4 linked regions of the Homo sapiens genome follow. The protein of the gene in region 4 binds, or shares a complex with, the protein of the main gene of each other region. Each region holds a gene or a part of one and is shown on either strand. Other genes may lie near its edges.

What was found. Proteins that work in one complex are often made in the same cells at the same time.
Region 1: SF3B1 (region 4) and SMARCA5 share a complex: the UniProt entries of both Homo sapiens proteins name them as parts of the B-WICH complex.
Region 2: SF3B1 (region 4) and DEK share a complex: the UniProt entries of both Homo sapiens proteins name them as parts of the B-WICH complex.
Region 3: SF3B1 (region 4) and MYBBP1A share a complex: the UniProt entries of both Homo sapiens proteins name them as parts of the B-WICH complex.

The regions. Positions count from the first base shown.
Region 1 is NC_000004.12:143,544,702-143,548,201, reverse strand, and holds part of SMARCA5 (SWI/SNF-related matrix-associated actin-dependent regulator of chromatin subfamily A member 5), read right to left. Parts: intron 3,466-3,500; coding exon 3,355-3,465; intron 2,733-3,354; coding exon 2,619-2,732; intron 2,278-2,618; coding exon 2,155-2,277; intron 1,427-2,154; coding exon 1,294-1,426; intron 818-1,293; coding exon 699-817; intron 275-698; coding exon 62-274; intron 1-61. UniProt on the Homo sapiens protein: ATPase that possesses intrinsic ATP-dependent nucleosome-remodeling activity.
Region 2 is NC_000006.12:18,251,031-18,254,530, reverse strand, and holds part of DEK (protein DEK), read left to right. Parts: intron 1-3,500. UniProt on the Homo sapiens protein: Involved in chromatin organization.
Region 3 is NC_000017.11:4,552,585-4,556,532, reverse strand, and holds the start of MYBBP1A (myb-binding protein 1A), read left to right. Parts: upstream 1-1,148; 5' UTR 1,149-1,208; coding exon 1,209-1,406; intron 1,407-1,576; coding exon 1,577-1,672; intron 1,673-2,254; coding exon 2,255-2,338; intron 2,339-2,439; coding exon 2,440-2,514; intron 2,515-2,615; coding exon 2,616-2,723; intron 2,724-3,906; coding exon 3,907-3,948. UniProt on the Homo sapiens protein: May activate or repress transcription via interactions with sequence specific DNA-binding proteins. Repression may be mediated at least in part by histone deacetylase activity (HDAC activity).
Region 4 is NC_000002.12:197,404,029-197,407,528, reverse strand, and holds part of SF3B1 (splicing factor 3B subunit 1), read left to right. Parts: intron 1-2,056; coding exon 2,057-2,254; intron 2,255-2,351; coding exon 2,352-2,453; intron 2,454-2,674; exon of another isoform or gene 2,675-2,811; intron 2,812-3,500. UniProt on the Homo sapiens protein: Component of the 17S U2 SnRNP complex of the spliceosome, a large ribonucleoprotein complex that removes introns from transcribed pre-mRNAs.

The DNA of each region.
Region 1 (3,500 bases), on a different chromosome or scaffold from region 4:
ACCAAAGATGACACTTACTCTGAACTCTGCTACATTACACAAAAAAGCCCTGAGCACTCACCATTGCAGTTCTGGACTTAAGAAACCAGTCAAATCTGAACTGAGGAGAGTTGCGAATACACTGTCGCAATTCATCATAAACATTTTCTTTGTCAAATCCAAGTTTGTGAAGCATACAAATCAGAAAACGATCTTCTTCTTCAGTATAGTTTTTTCCTTTGTTAGTACCATATGATATTCTCAGCTGATGAAAAGGTGCTTTGTACCGTCCAATCTATGAAAGTCAGATTTTATATTATATAAAATACAAATCCTATATAATCTGTATTTCAAACTCAGCTTTAGTATAATTAGCTAAAATGTTGCATTTCAAATCAGAATTTTCTATCTAGAGCACTTCAATTGCTTTATATAATCTTTGTCCCGAAAGACCTTTATAGTCTTTATTATTATAAAGAGAAATACAGACTAAGACTTCCTGATTCTACTTAGTAAAAAGCTAATCTTAGTGTCTTTGACTCAGATCTATCAGTCTAGTGTATAGGTAAATTCTGCTGACAATACCATGTTTGAATGCTACTCTGAAGAAATTTTAAATTGTAAACCCTTACTTCTTTTCCTTTATAAAAAGTCACTCTCTCATACTCACAGCTAGGAGTTATTTTATTAACTACCTAACTTATTAACAAGCAAATTACCTTTGTGTCAAGTGCTTTCTTGATGCTTATTCTTCTTTGAATTCTCGCCTCTCCCCTTTCAATCTGAGCCATAATCTTCTCTATGTCCTGGAGCTCGTTGCACCTTTCCCAAAACACAGCTGTAAAAGTTGGACAAAGTAAACAAATCATTTATATTTTTATTTCTTTAATGTAAAAAAAATGGGATCAACTGGATTATTTATCTTCTAATTCTTAAATTTCTGCTATTCTAAGCAGACTCACCACAGCATACCCTCACATGTTAACCTAATAATACAACTGACTTCAGGAAACACAACACATAATACTTGAAGTTATGCAGAGAAATTAAGATAAAAATGCAAGGGCAATTATCCAGTGACTTATTCTGATTTTCTTTGCTGTCGCTAGAGTTAGCTAGGGTTAAAAAATTTTTAAAAAGGAAACCATTACGCCATTTCTGGAAACAGAACATTTTCTAATTTGTAAAAAATAATGAAGAAGGTACTAACTACACTGTGACAAAATTAGCTAATCACAACATAATTCAGAATAAGAAAACAAGAACCTTCCAACAGCTCTTACTAAACTCCAACAGCCTGCTTAAAAGAATTACCTGAATATTCAATGACTTCTTCTGGAGTTTTGCCTTCTACTTCTCTTGCTATATTTTCAATATCATCACGACCCCACTTCTCATTAGCTTTGATAAACTGGTTAAAATCTCTCTTATTCCAATTGGTAAATCCCTTCACAGGAACAGAAACAAAATATTTAATCACAGCACATTAAACTTGGAAAACATGCTATTAGCAAACCTTCTAAATATTACAAAAACAAATTTTCACTAGTTTATTAAGTTCTTTTAGAGTGGTAACTTTTCGTGTACATAAATATACACTTTTGACAACACATTATATATTGCTCAAATACCCAAGCAATTAAATATGAGTGGCTGAGAGTAAGGAATACTGTATGAAAAGGTGACAGTTTCACTGAGCTTTGAAGGATTACTAGCAGTTGGCCAGAAAGAGTGAATAACATAAAGGGCAAAAATATGAGCAAGTAGAAAAATGGAAGGAAAATGAAGCTTTAAAGGTAAGTCAAAGGCCAGATTCTGAAAGACCTTGATGAACACCAAAGGATGTTTAAAAAATAACCAAGCCAAGATTTATAGTTGAAAATGGTGACTGGGTAGCAATGTGGAAAATTCATAGGAAAGACGGGAACATTCAAAGTAAGGTGATAAAAAAGATACCCACTCTACCGAGCCAGAGTAATAAAATCTGTAGTCTTCTCAACTACCTCAACTAGTGACAATCAGATGGAGCATTTATCCACATGCCCATACTTTATTGTCTCCAATTATTCCATCTTTAAAAGCAGAAACTTGTATTTATTTTTATGCCCCAACATAACCTAACACAGTCCTTTACAACAAACTGTTACTAAAGTTTGTACTGATTAAAGGCTATACCTGTGTTAGAAGCTTCTCTTTTTCCTCTAACTCTTCATCATTAAGGGATTCAGCTTCATCAATTTTAAGCTGTTCTTCTTTTTGTGCCTGTGCTGCATTAGGCAGCTCAGGATTTCGAGGTACCTAAAAGATATTTTTCTATGCCATCAAATCAGTAAATTTTAAAGAGCATGTGATGAACCAACTAACTGACATTTCACAAGTTTCAATTCAACCAGGAAAGAAAATATACTGATACATTGCATGTATTATGTTAAAAACAAACCAGATTGGTCATGAAGTCTTATTTTTTCTTGTTAAAGAAAAACAGACCCAAGTTTATGTATTTCATACATACAACTAGACTAGGCTAAAGCAGTATTGTTTCACACTAGGTCCAAATTAGATAAATATTTATAACTAATGTTTATACCTTCCATAATTTCTGGATAGGAATGAACAGAAAGGCAGATAATTTCAATTACCTTGTACCCAATAGTTTTTCTGTAAAACAGAATTTCTTTTTCCAGTAATTCAAATAAACGTGGAGGAAAGAACTGGAAATCCTGAACATTGGGTTGTTTTGGAGGTCGAGGAGCCTAAAGAAAAACAAAAATAAGTGTTATCCATAAAAAAGAAATTTCATTTTAAATGTATCCTTAGTCCTCACTTCATAAACCACAACAGCCAATTCTGCAAGCAACTGAATGCATCTTTCAATAAAACTGAATTTATATCTTAATTTTAAATGCACAGATTCAAAATTAATTTTTGAAAAATGTTAACTAAAAACAGAAGAGAGTACACTCTAAAGAAATGCAAAATGTAGGAAAGAGGCAGTGGCTCACGCCTGTAATCCCAATACTTTGGGAGACCAAGGTGGGCGGATCATGAGGTCAAGAGATCAAGACCATCCTGGCCAACATGGTGAAACCCCATCACTACTAAAATTACAAAAATTAGCCAGGGGTGGTGGTGGGTGCCTGTAGTCCCAGCTACTCGGAAGGGTGAGGCAGGAGAATTGCTTGAACCCGGGAGGCGGAGGTTGCAGTGAGCTGAGATCGCACCACTGAACTCCTGGTAACAGAGTGAGACTCTGTCTCAAAAAAAAAAAAAAAAAAGAAACACAAAATCTAATTATCAATCTTTTTGCAAGAATATATGAAAAAAATTACATTTTCAAAATTTTTAGATATTTTTATGCTGTGTCAGTCAACTCACCTTGGGTGCTTTAGGTTCACTAACACGAAGAGCTTCCCTGAAATATGCATCAACGGCATAGTTGGCTTTTCTTTCTCGTTTAGGTGGTTCAATCCACTCTGTGAATGCAATCTAGCACATGGGAAACAACTCAAATCACCAACTTT
Region 2 (3,500 bases), on a different chromosome or scaffold from region 4:
GAAAAATTTTTATTTTAAAATGTTAAAAATAATATTTTCTAGGAAAAATAACTTTTCAAAAGAATGAAAGAGTGGCATTTTATGTTTTTGTACATCTGTTTAATGTCTGGCTTAAGAGAAAACAGCTTGATTACCATTTGCTTCTGCATTCAGTCTTTTTGTGTTGTTGTTGTTGTTACTGTTGTTGTTACTGTTGTTTTGAGACAGATTCTCACTCTGTTGCCCAGGCTAGAGTGCAGTGGCACAATCTCTGCTCACTGCAACCACTGTCTCCCAGGTTCAAGCAATTCTTCTGCCTCAGTCTCTACAGTAGCTGGGATTATAGGCGTGTGCCACCATACCTGGCTAATTTTTGTCTTTTTAATAGAGACGGGGTTTTGCCATGTTGGCCAGGCTGGTCTCGAACTCCTGACCTCAGGTGATCTGACCGCCTCGGCCTCCCAGAGTGCTGGGATTACAGGCGTGAGCTACCGTGCCTGGCCGCATTCAGTCTTTTGCAATGTATTGTTTTGTTTAAAATCTATGAAGGGCCTGATGCAGTAGCTTATGCCTGTAATCCCTGCCCTTTGGGAGGCCGAGGCAGGTGGATCACTTGAGCTCAGGAGTTCAAGACCAGCCTGGGTGACAGAGTGAGACTGTCTCAAGAAGAAATTAGCCAGGCGCTGAGGCACGCTCGTGTAATCCCAGCCACTTGGGAGGCTGAGGTGGAAGCCTGAACTCAGGAGGTCAGTGCTGCAGTGAGCTATTTTCATGCCACTGCATTCCATCCTAGGTGACAGAATGAGATCCTCTCTCAAAATAATAAGTATATGAAGAAAACCGAGCCTCACATAAAAAGAATATTTTTAAAGTCTTTTTAGATAATTGTGTATATTCTCTTTTTGATACCATACAATACCAAAACTCTACATAAGTTGTAGTTTCCTAAAGATTAGTTGTAATGTTTAATGTAGGTCTGAAACCAGGTTAATTAACTTGGGTCTTGTATGTATAGTTTTGTAACATGCATTTACCGCTTGTAAATATTGGTTCCCTGAATTATGTCTTCCAAATGTTGACGTTTTATTGAACACTGTCATTAAATCATGCTCATTAATATAAATATCATCTCATCAGAAAAATTACTTAGGCCTTGGTAAACTATCAAGTTCACAGTAGTAGATGTGAATTTTCCAGAATTCTAGTTCCCACTTGAAATCATAACGTTTATCATTGGCGATAAATGCTCTCAGTTTTCCTTGAAGTGACAAGCTCACCTTGTTCATGTTTGAAAACATCTCTATCAAATACCTAAGTCTGAGTTAGCCATATTTGTTCTTTTAAAAAGTGGTGTTCTCTGGGAGGTGAAGCTTGCAGTAAGCCGAGATCGTGCTGCTGCACTCCAGCCTGGGCGACAGAGCGAGACTGTCTCAAAAAAAAAAAAAAAATGTGGGGTTCTATGAAAAAGGAGCTTGGAGCGTGTTTAGCTCACAACTCAGATACACAAATGCTTTTCCTTCAGAAAACCATTGAACTTCAGTTGTAGCCATATTTATGTATATCTTCCATTTTGTCACAGATATTAGAAAGACATGTACTTGAGAGTTAACACAGTATTTATTGTTTTATCAAGGACATTATTAAGTGAAACCATTTGCCTTGTTTGTTTCTGCTGGTGTGTGGTTGTGAGGAATACAGTGACTAATATATGTTGCTTCCTTGATTAGTACTAAGGTGCCATCAATTTTACCCACCTTTGCTTTCCTTTGCTTTTGCAATTAGTACAAATGTCAACACAGTGAAAAGAGCAGATAAATAGTGTTGCTATTATTATGAAAATAGTTTCTACCTCGGAGACTCCGAAAAAGGTCTCAGGAAACCCCAAAGTCCTTGAACCACACTGTGAGAATCTGTTTTTTCTTGTCATATAGAATCTTAACTCTTATGTCAGTTTTTCATATGTGATTCTGTGATGATTACTCCTTAATCTGATAGTATCGAGCTCAGGCTATTTTCTTTTTTTTTTTTTTTTTTTTTTTTTTGGAGACAGCGTTTTACTCTGTTGCCTAGACTGGAGTGTTGTGGTACAATCATGGCTCAATGCAACCTTGACCTCCTGGGCTCAGGTGATCCTCTCACCTCAGCCACCCAAGTAACTGGGACTATAGGTGTATGCTACCATGTGTGGCTAAATTTTACATTTTCTTAGAGACAAGGGCTCACTATATTGTCCAAGATGGTCACAAACTCCTGAGCTCATGTGATCCTCTCACCTTGGCCTCCCAAAGTGTTGGGATTACAGGCATGAGCCACTATGTCTGGCCTAGAGCTATTTTCTATGCTACAAGAAGTTTCCTTTTTCTCCTCTTTAACAATTTCTCAATGGTTTAATCAACACAACATTAATCATTGATTGCTTTCCTATCCTTCTATTGTACTTTACCTTATTTTATTTGTTAATCAGATTTTGTTTCCAAAAAGAGATAATGCTGTTGACACTGGATTTTGATTAATAGATTTAACTATTTTTGGAGTAGTATAGGAAAACTCTAAGGCATTTGTATATTACTACTTTTTGGATTTTGGTTTTAAAACTCCTCGTTTACTTTTGGGAATTGCATTTTTTTTTTTATTGGCTGCTTGAATAACTTAACATCTTTTCACTTTCCTGGATAGATTTATCCAGAACCTGTTTCAGTCCTCATACTAATAATTCGATATACAGATTACATCCTTGCTACCTGTGTCTGGTTTCTGAGCTGAGATTGTGAGGGATATTATGTTTTTCTAATACATTTGAGACCTGGAGATCATGTAACAAGTAGTAAGAGCTTGGACAGTGAGAGTTACCTTTTCTCCAAACGGTGCTATCAAAGAATTTATCCACATGGATTAAGGTTCTGATAATAGTTGTTAATGGTAGTATCTCACATAGCAAGGATATGTGTATGCATTCACGATTTCTTATAGAGAATCTTCTCTGAGAAATGTCTTTGATCCACCAACTTCAAGTTCCTGGAGTGACCTAATTTTGCTGTTTCCTAGTGTGCCTTTAGAAGGGTACGTTGTTGGAGCAATCTAGGTTATCCTGTGGTTTCTTTGCAGAGAGCTCAAGAGTACCATATTATACAAAGCAGCCACTTTTTCTTAATTTTTGTGTAGGTGACAGTGACCCCTAGACTGGAGGTTCCTGGGAGGTAAAGGACCTGTCGTTCTAGTCTCTGCAAGAAAAATATTGCCTAAAGTTATCACAAACATTTACACAATTGGATACCTTAAGGTTATGTTATGGAATTTTACCTTAATGTTTCTGCTTATTGCAGAAAATAAAGTAACAAAGGTAGAAATAAAAGAATATAAAAGATGCTCAATCCCAGAAATAAATATTAATTCTGTAATGCGCATTTTAACATTCTTGATGTTAGGTAATTTTATGGTTTTCAATTTTAGAATTTAGCAAAACTTCCTTGAGAAAGCACTTAAAAATTAAATTTATTGTTTACTGTAATCAACTCATTTTC
Region 3 (3,948 bases), on a different chromosome or scaffold from region 4:
GTAGCAGTTCCCCTCCCCTGCCATTGTAAAAGGCTTCTCTGATTTAATAGACCGTTTGATCCCACCACCTTTACCTCCCACTCCCAAGAAAATTCTTCTCCGTAATGGCACCACAATGTACCCAGTTATTTCAGTCTCAAACCTGGCATCCCCCTCATTTCCTCTCCCCCGACATCTAACTCCATCACCCACCCCACCTGCTCCACATCAGCCCAAATCTGACCTGTTCTCATTTTCCCTGGGTCCAGTCCACCACTATCTCTAAATGGTCTTCCCGTGCTTCCACCTGCGCAGACCTACAGTCCATCCCCCACACAGCAGCCAGCATCATCTTGTTAAAATGTAAATCGGATCCAGGCTTGCCCCTGCATTAAACTCACCAGTGACTTCCCATCACCCTCAGAATGAAATCCCAGCCCGGGGCCCCATGCAGCCTTGCTTCTCGCCAGCCTCAGCCCCTCCAGCCCTGGGTCTCTGTAGTTGCAAGGCTTGGGATTTCGTCCCCTTAGATCCTTGCAGGAGTACGGGGGAGGGGGGCCCTTCTTGTCACTCAGCTCTCATCCCAAATGCCACTTCCTCACAGAGGCCTTCCCTGACCAACCCCTCAAATCATTATTGGAGACCCTATTGAATAGTAATTAGCCGTGTTTTTAACGGGTGATGTATTCACGTTCCAGCACTTAAAAGCCTCCTCCTGACCCTTGCATTCCTAATTCTCTTCATAATTATGATCTTTTTAAATGCATTTGGCTCCGTGTTCCTCCACGAGAGCAGAGGCTTTGTTCCAACCGCCTAGCACGGCACGCCAGCAGGAGCCCAGTAATTGTTGAATGGCTCAATGTTCGGAGCGCAGGGGCCGCTCTGGGACGAGTCGGATCGAAGTGCTACACCTAGGTTTGTTTCCGAGATGGGCCCTTAGAAATGCCCCCCTGGGGCTCCAAAGGGGCAGATGCCACAGCCGCCAGGGCGGAGCGGGTGTGAGCAGAAGGCTGGGAAAGATGGGACGCCGCTAGGCGAGGGACTTCCGCTCAGAGCTACGGCGGAAATGCCGCTCTTTTAACTCTGGGCCGGTCTCTCTTGGTTCCCCCGCCCCTCCGGGTTCTTCCGCCTCCGAGCCGACACAAACCGGTGCGCATGCGCCGTGCCCTGACCTGGAAGCGGCTGGGGCCGGAGCACACGTGTTTCGTGTTTCGGTGAGTGTGGCGGAGATGGAGAGCCGGGATCCCGCCCAGCCGATGTCGCCTGGAGAAGCGACGCAGAGTGGCGCCCGGCCTGCCGACCGCTATGGCCTATTGAAGCACAGTCGCGAGTTCTTGGACTTCTTCTGGGACATTGCGAAGCCTGAGCAGGAGACGCGACTTGCGGCCACGGAGAAGCTGCTGGAGTATCTGCGTGGCAGGCCGAAGGTGGAGTGGCGGGGTCTGGGGCAGAGGCTGCGCATATCCCGGCAAGGAAGCGGCGGCGGGCCCAGGGAGTTGAGACTGGGGGCACGTGGTCGCGAACCTGGATGCCAGGGTGCGCGGGGGCGTGCACCTTGTTGTCACCATTGAACACGAGGGTGTGCTTGGTTCCGCAGGGGTCCGAGATGAAATATGCCCTGAAGCGTCTAATCACGGGACTCGGGGTCGGGCGAGAAACAGCCCGGCCCTGCTACAGTTTGGCCCTGGCACAGGTGAGGTGGTGCTCCTGGCAGGGTCCCAGCCATCCAGGTCAAAATGGTGGGGTATGAGGAGGGCGGGTGTGGTGTCTCAGCTGTGGCGGAGGGGCAGCCCGAGAGAGAGGTCGGGAGTGGCAGAGCAGACTGGAGGCCAACCTGAGGGAGGCCTCTTCATGAAAGTGGAGAAGGTGTGAGCAAGGCCTGGCCAGGTTTTCTATTTGGTGCTTGGGTTGCCCGGCCTCTTAGGTACACTTTCTGGGAGCAGTGAGCGCTGGGTGGGCTCCCTTAGGCCTGCAGAGGCATTCAGCTGATTGGAGTAGACCACTCTCTGAGGCGCCTTGACAAGGGGCAGAGCAATAAAGACCCAGGCCTGCAGGATCAGCCTGAGGGGAGCTCAGACCACGTGCGGAGAGAAGACCCAGTGGCTGAGCATTTCAGACTAGTAATCTAGGGGCCATAGAAGGTACATAGAAGGTGGGACTAGGGACCTGAGGCTTCTTGGGAGAAGTTGAAGGGGGAAGGGAGGTTAAGGTTTGTGAAGACGTAGTTGGGCCACTCTCCTGAACCCTCTTCCTCCTGCCACACAACTCCTGGCAGCTGTTACAGTCTTTTGAAGACCTCCCCTTGTGCAGCATCCTGCAGCAGATACAAGAAAAATATGACCTGCATCAGGTGAAGAAGGTGAGAGTGGGGCCAGGGAGGTCAGCAGCCCCAGGGGTGGGAGGCTTGGGGAATGGGGAGTTCCAGGGCCCCTCATGCCTGTGCCTGGAATCCTTTTCTAGGCAATGCTGAGACCTGCTCTCTTTGCAAACCTGTTTGGAGTGCTCGCCCTCTTTCAGTCAGGTCGGCTGGTGAAGGTAAGAGCTTTGGAGGGACTGGGGGAATGTAGGCTGGCTTGGGATGGGTGGGGGACAGTCGTGTGCCCTGCTCATACCCTCTGTCCCTCTGTGGGGACCAGGACCAGGAGGCACTGATGAAGTCGGTGAAGCTGCTGCAGGCCCTGGCCCAGTACCAAAACCACTTGCAGGAGCAGCCCCGGAAGGCCCTGGTGGACATCCTCTCCGAGGTATGAGCTCCCCAGCTGTGCGGGCCCAGGCAACACTTTGTTACAGAGACATCAAGGGGGCTCGGATGAGAATCTGGAACAGCACTGTTCCATAGAAATACAAAGATGTATAATTTGAAGCGTTTCAGTGACTTTGTTGAAAAGGTAAAAAGAAACAGGTGTCATTTAGTAACATTTAGTGACATTTGACTTTATCTGGTATATCTAAAATATTATTTCAGTGTGCATTGGTATAAAAAAGTGTTGAGATATCTTACACTCTTTTTGTCAGGTGTCTCCAAAATCCAGTGTGTATGTTACACTTAGGCACACCCCTGTTCAGATTAGCCACCTTTCAGGCGCTCAGCAGCCCTGTGTGGCTGTGGCTACCGTATTGGGCAGTGCAGCTCTGGAACTGTGCCTGGCACGTGGCAAGTATATAAAACGTTTGCCATTGTTATCCTGGTCAAGGCTGGCCCCTTGTGGGCCTCCACTGCCCTACTTGGGAAGGTAGCACCCTAGGCCCTTTTGTCACCGAAGAGAAAGGCAGGGGTAGCAGGTCTCCAGGCCAGGGCTTACTGTGCAGTCTTGACCTCAGAGCCAGAAGGACCTGAATTCGAATCCCAGCTCTCCACCTAGGGCTCCTCGTGTATGAAATGAGCTAGTACTCTGAAATACCAAAAAAAGGAATAATTAAAAGGGTAGCTTTGACCGGGCATGGTGGCTCACGCCTGTAATCCCAGAACTTTGGGAGGCCGAGGTGGGCAGATCACTTGAGGTCAGGAGTTCAAGACCAGCCTGGCCAACATGGTGAAACCCCATCTCTACTAAAAATACAAAAATTAGCTGGGTGTGATGGCGCACACCTTTAATCCCACCTGAGGCAGGAGAATTGCTTCAACCTGGGAGGCGGAGGTTGCAGTGAGCCAAGATCACACCACTATACTCAGCCTGGGTGGCAAAGTGAGACTCTGTCTTAAAAAAAAAAAATAAGGGGTGGGGGGCAGGTACCTCCAGGGGCCAGTTAGCGTCAGTGGGATGCTTGTCAAAAACCCCGCTGCCTGGGAATTTGAGTTTTGTTAGCAACTGGCCTCTGATGACTCTGATACCTCACCAGGTGGCCCCGTGTCAGGAGCAGGTAGAACAGGATCCACCAGGCTCACCCCGCAGAGGAAGTCACGATTTCTTCTCCCTCCATCCTTAGGTCTCGAAGGCCACATTGCAGGAGATCCTGCCGGAGGTCCTC
Region 4 (3,500 bases):
GGTTTAAGCGATTCTCTTGCCTGAGTTTCCCAGGTACCTGGGATTACAGGTGTCCACCACCATGCCCGGCTCATCTTTGTATTTCTAGTAGAGACAGGGTTTCGCCATGCTGGCCAGGCTGATCTTGAACTCCTGACCTCAAGTGATCCGTCCCTCTCAGCCTCCCAAAGTGCTGGGATTACAGGCGTGAGTTACCGTGCCTGGCCTTTTTATCATATCAACCTAAAATTTATTTTGAACTATAAAATTTTCTAGGTACCTGGTACTCAGGGAGTATTTGTTAGTCTGAAGATAGTCTGTGGTCGTATAGCTGACATCATAACCAGGGGGAACCAGATAACTTTGTAAGTCATCTGATGGCCTTTACAGAGCTTTTTCTGTTAATGACTATTGATTTTTAACAGTTCATGAGTATGTTTTTTGTTGTTTTGTTTTGTTTTAGAGACAGGGTCTCACTGTGTTGCCCGTACTGGAGAGCAGTGGCGCTGACATAGCTCACTGCAGCCTTGGACTCCTGGGCTCAAGTGATCCTCCTGCCTCAGCCTCCTGAGTAGCTGGGGCTACAGGCATGCACTACCATACCTGGCTAATTTTTTTATTTTTTGTAGATACGGGAGTCTCACTGTGTTGCCAGGCTGGTCTCAAACTCCTAGGCTCAAAGTACCCACATTGGCCTCCCACACTGCTGGGGATTATAGGCATGAGCCACTGTGTCCAGCCTTGTTTTGTTTTTGATCCCCTGTTATTTGTGTTAGAGTATTTGTTTCAAGTTTGCATGAAGTTTTGCCTTAAAGCTTTTTGTAGCCTCCACATAATGCTGTGGGTATAGATAGAACTGTGGGTATAGATAGACAGAACTTACTGTTGACTGCCTGCATGTCTTTCTCAGTCGTAGTCATTGATTTCCTTAGTGTCACTAGGAGGAAAAGTCTCCCTTAGTGAATCCTACTAATAAGCAACGTCCTTACTAGTGAATATAAAAATATAGTAGACCTTTAAATCCTTAATGGCAAGTGATGCCTGTGGACTTGACATTGATTTCTCTAGGCCTCACATCTTTAGAGTATCCACTTTATCCAAAATGCTTAGTGGTCTGTGCTGGTGCAGACGTTAACTAGCAACAAAAAATATCTGTGCAAAGTACAGATAGCATCAATATAAATTTAACATAATTTAATCTTTAATAGACAAAACAATTTTAGGCTCACTGGAGAAGACGTGTATAGGTTTATTGACCTCTCCAAGAAGTTGTATTTTTTTTCTTTTACTATATATTAAATTATATAAAATAGAGATGGGGTCTTGCCATGTTGCCAAGGCTGGTCTCAAACTCCTGGGCTCAAGCGTTCCTCCCATCTCAGCCTCCCAAAGTGCTGTAATCCTGGCCTGTCCAGAAGTTGTTTTTTTTTTTTGAAGTCTGTTACCAGCTTTAAAAAAAAAAAAAAAAATTTCTTTGTGATTTTCAGCCTGCATTTTTTGAAATTTTACTCGTTTTGCAAAAGGTTTGATCAGGTGGTGTGTATTTTATAGGGCTTTGGCAAACATTTTGGTTTTAGTTTTTATGCATTTAACTAATTTTTGTAGAGTTTTACACTTAAAAGATTTTGTAGTGCAAGAATTTATGTGACATTTTAATACTAAAATATAATTTTTTATGTTTTATGCCCCATATGAGCTTATTTCCATTTTATATAAATCTTATGAAACATTATTTGCTCGACTACAGCATTTTTTGGAATTGCTGACTCAGATTTTATAATTTTCAAATTTTTAATAATTTGACATTTTGACCCACAACATGTTTGAATGTGATTAGTATTTTCTAAGCTCTTCTCTTGTGTTTCCTCAGTTCCCTACACCACGGATATAATCAGTTAGTGGATGAGAAGTATATATTTTAAGTTTCTAATTAAGATAGAAAAGCAAGATAGATGTTGTCTCCAAGCAAATAAAAACCTTATTAGCTAATAAACTAAAATATTTTAAGTGCAAATATTGTTCATTATGCTGTTTTTTAAGTTAAGAAAATCCTAAACTGTCTTATAACTTTTATTAGGTACTTCCTCCTCCAGCTGGTTATGTTCCTATTCGAACTCCAGCTCGAAAGCTGACAGCTACTCCAACACCTTTGGGTGGTATGACTGGTTTCCACATGCAAACTGAAGATCGAACTATGAAAAGTGTTAATGACCAGCCATCTGGAAATCTTCCATTTTTAAAACCTGATGATATTCAATACTTTGATAAACTATTGGTAAGTGATACTAGCAGAAATAAACTATTAATTGTGTTCCAGAATTATAAATCATAACATTTCAACTTCCCTTAACATTTTTTTCTTTTTACTATAGGTTGATGTTGATGAATCAACACTTAGTCCAGAAGAGCAAAAAGAGAGAAAAATAATGAAGTTGCTTTTAAAAATTAAGAATGGAACACCACCAATGAGAAAGGTAAGTCCCAGTTTGTTAAATTGTCATGTTTGTTGCTTATTTATTTAATTAAAAAAAATTTGTAGTTTTTGTAGAGACAGGGTTTTGCCATGTTGCCCAGGCTGGTCTCAAGTGATCCTCCTGCTTTGGCCTACCTCCCAAAGTGCTGGGATTACAGGTGTGAGGCTCTGCACCTGGCCATGTTTATATTTTTAAAAATGTTTTTAATTTTTTCACCAGGAAATGTAGACCACAAAATAGTAGTGAACTATTGGTATAGCCCGCTGTGGAGTGTGGTCTTTCCTTTACTCTCCCAAATAGCCCAAATTGGTAAAGGTTATTTAGAAAGCCTTCCCCATAAAAAATTAACTTTTGGTAGTGTTATATTTTTGTGTTTAGGAATTTATAATTACTGTCTTCATCTTTATCAAGGACATAGCATGAGGGGAAAAAATTTATGTAGTGTGAAGGATTTAACTTTTTTGCTTGTTTTTATTATTAATATTATATATATATTTTTGAGACAGGGTCTTGCTCTCTTGCCCAGGCTGGAGTGCAGTGGTGTAGTCTTGGCTCACTGCAACCTCCGCCTCTTGGGTTCAAGCAATTGTGCCTCAGCCTTCCAAGTAGCTGGGACTACAGGCGTGCACCACCACGCCCTGCTAATTTCTGTATTTTTAGTAGAAACGGGGTTTCACCATGTTGGCCAAGCTGGTCTTGAACTCCTGGCCTCAAATGATTAACCTGCCTCGGTCTCCCAAAGTGCTGGGATTACAGGTGTGAACCACCATGCCCAGCCGTTTGTTTTTATTATTATTTAAATACTCCTGGGCTCAAGAGATCCTCCTGCCTCAGTCTCCGAAAGTGTTGGGATTACAGGTGTGAGCCACCGTGCCCAGCTGGAGTTAGCACAAAATTCTTTGGTTAAAAAAGCTAATAAAAATGCTGAAAAATGAGATTCTCCTTTTTGTTCTTAAGGCCTTTAAAATATGCTTAAAGCTTGAAGATAATTAGTGAAATTATGTGAGGGATTATGTTAACACTATATGTGCCTTGGAAATGGAAGAT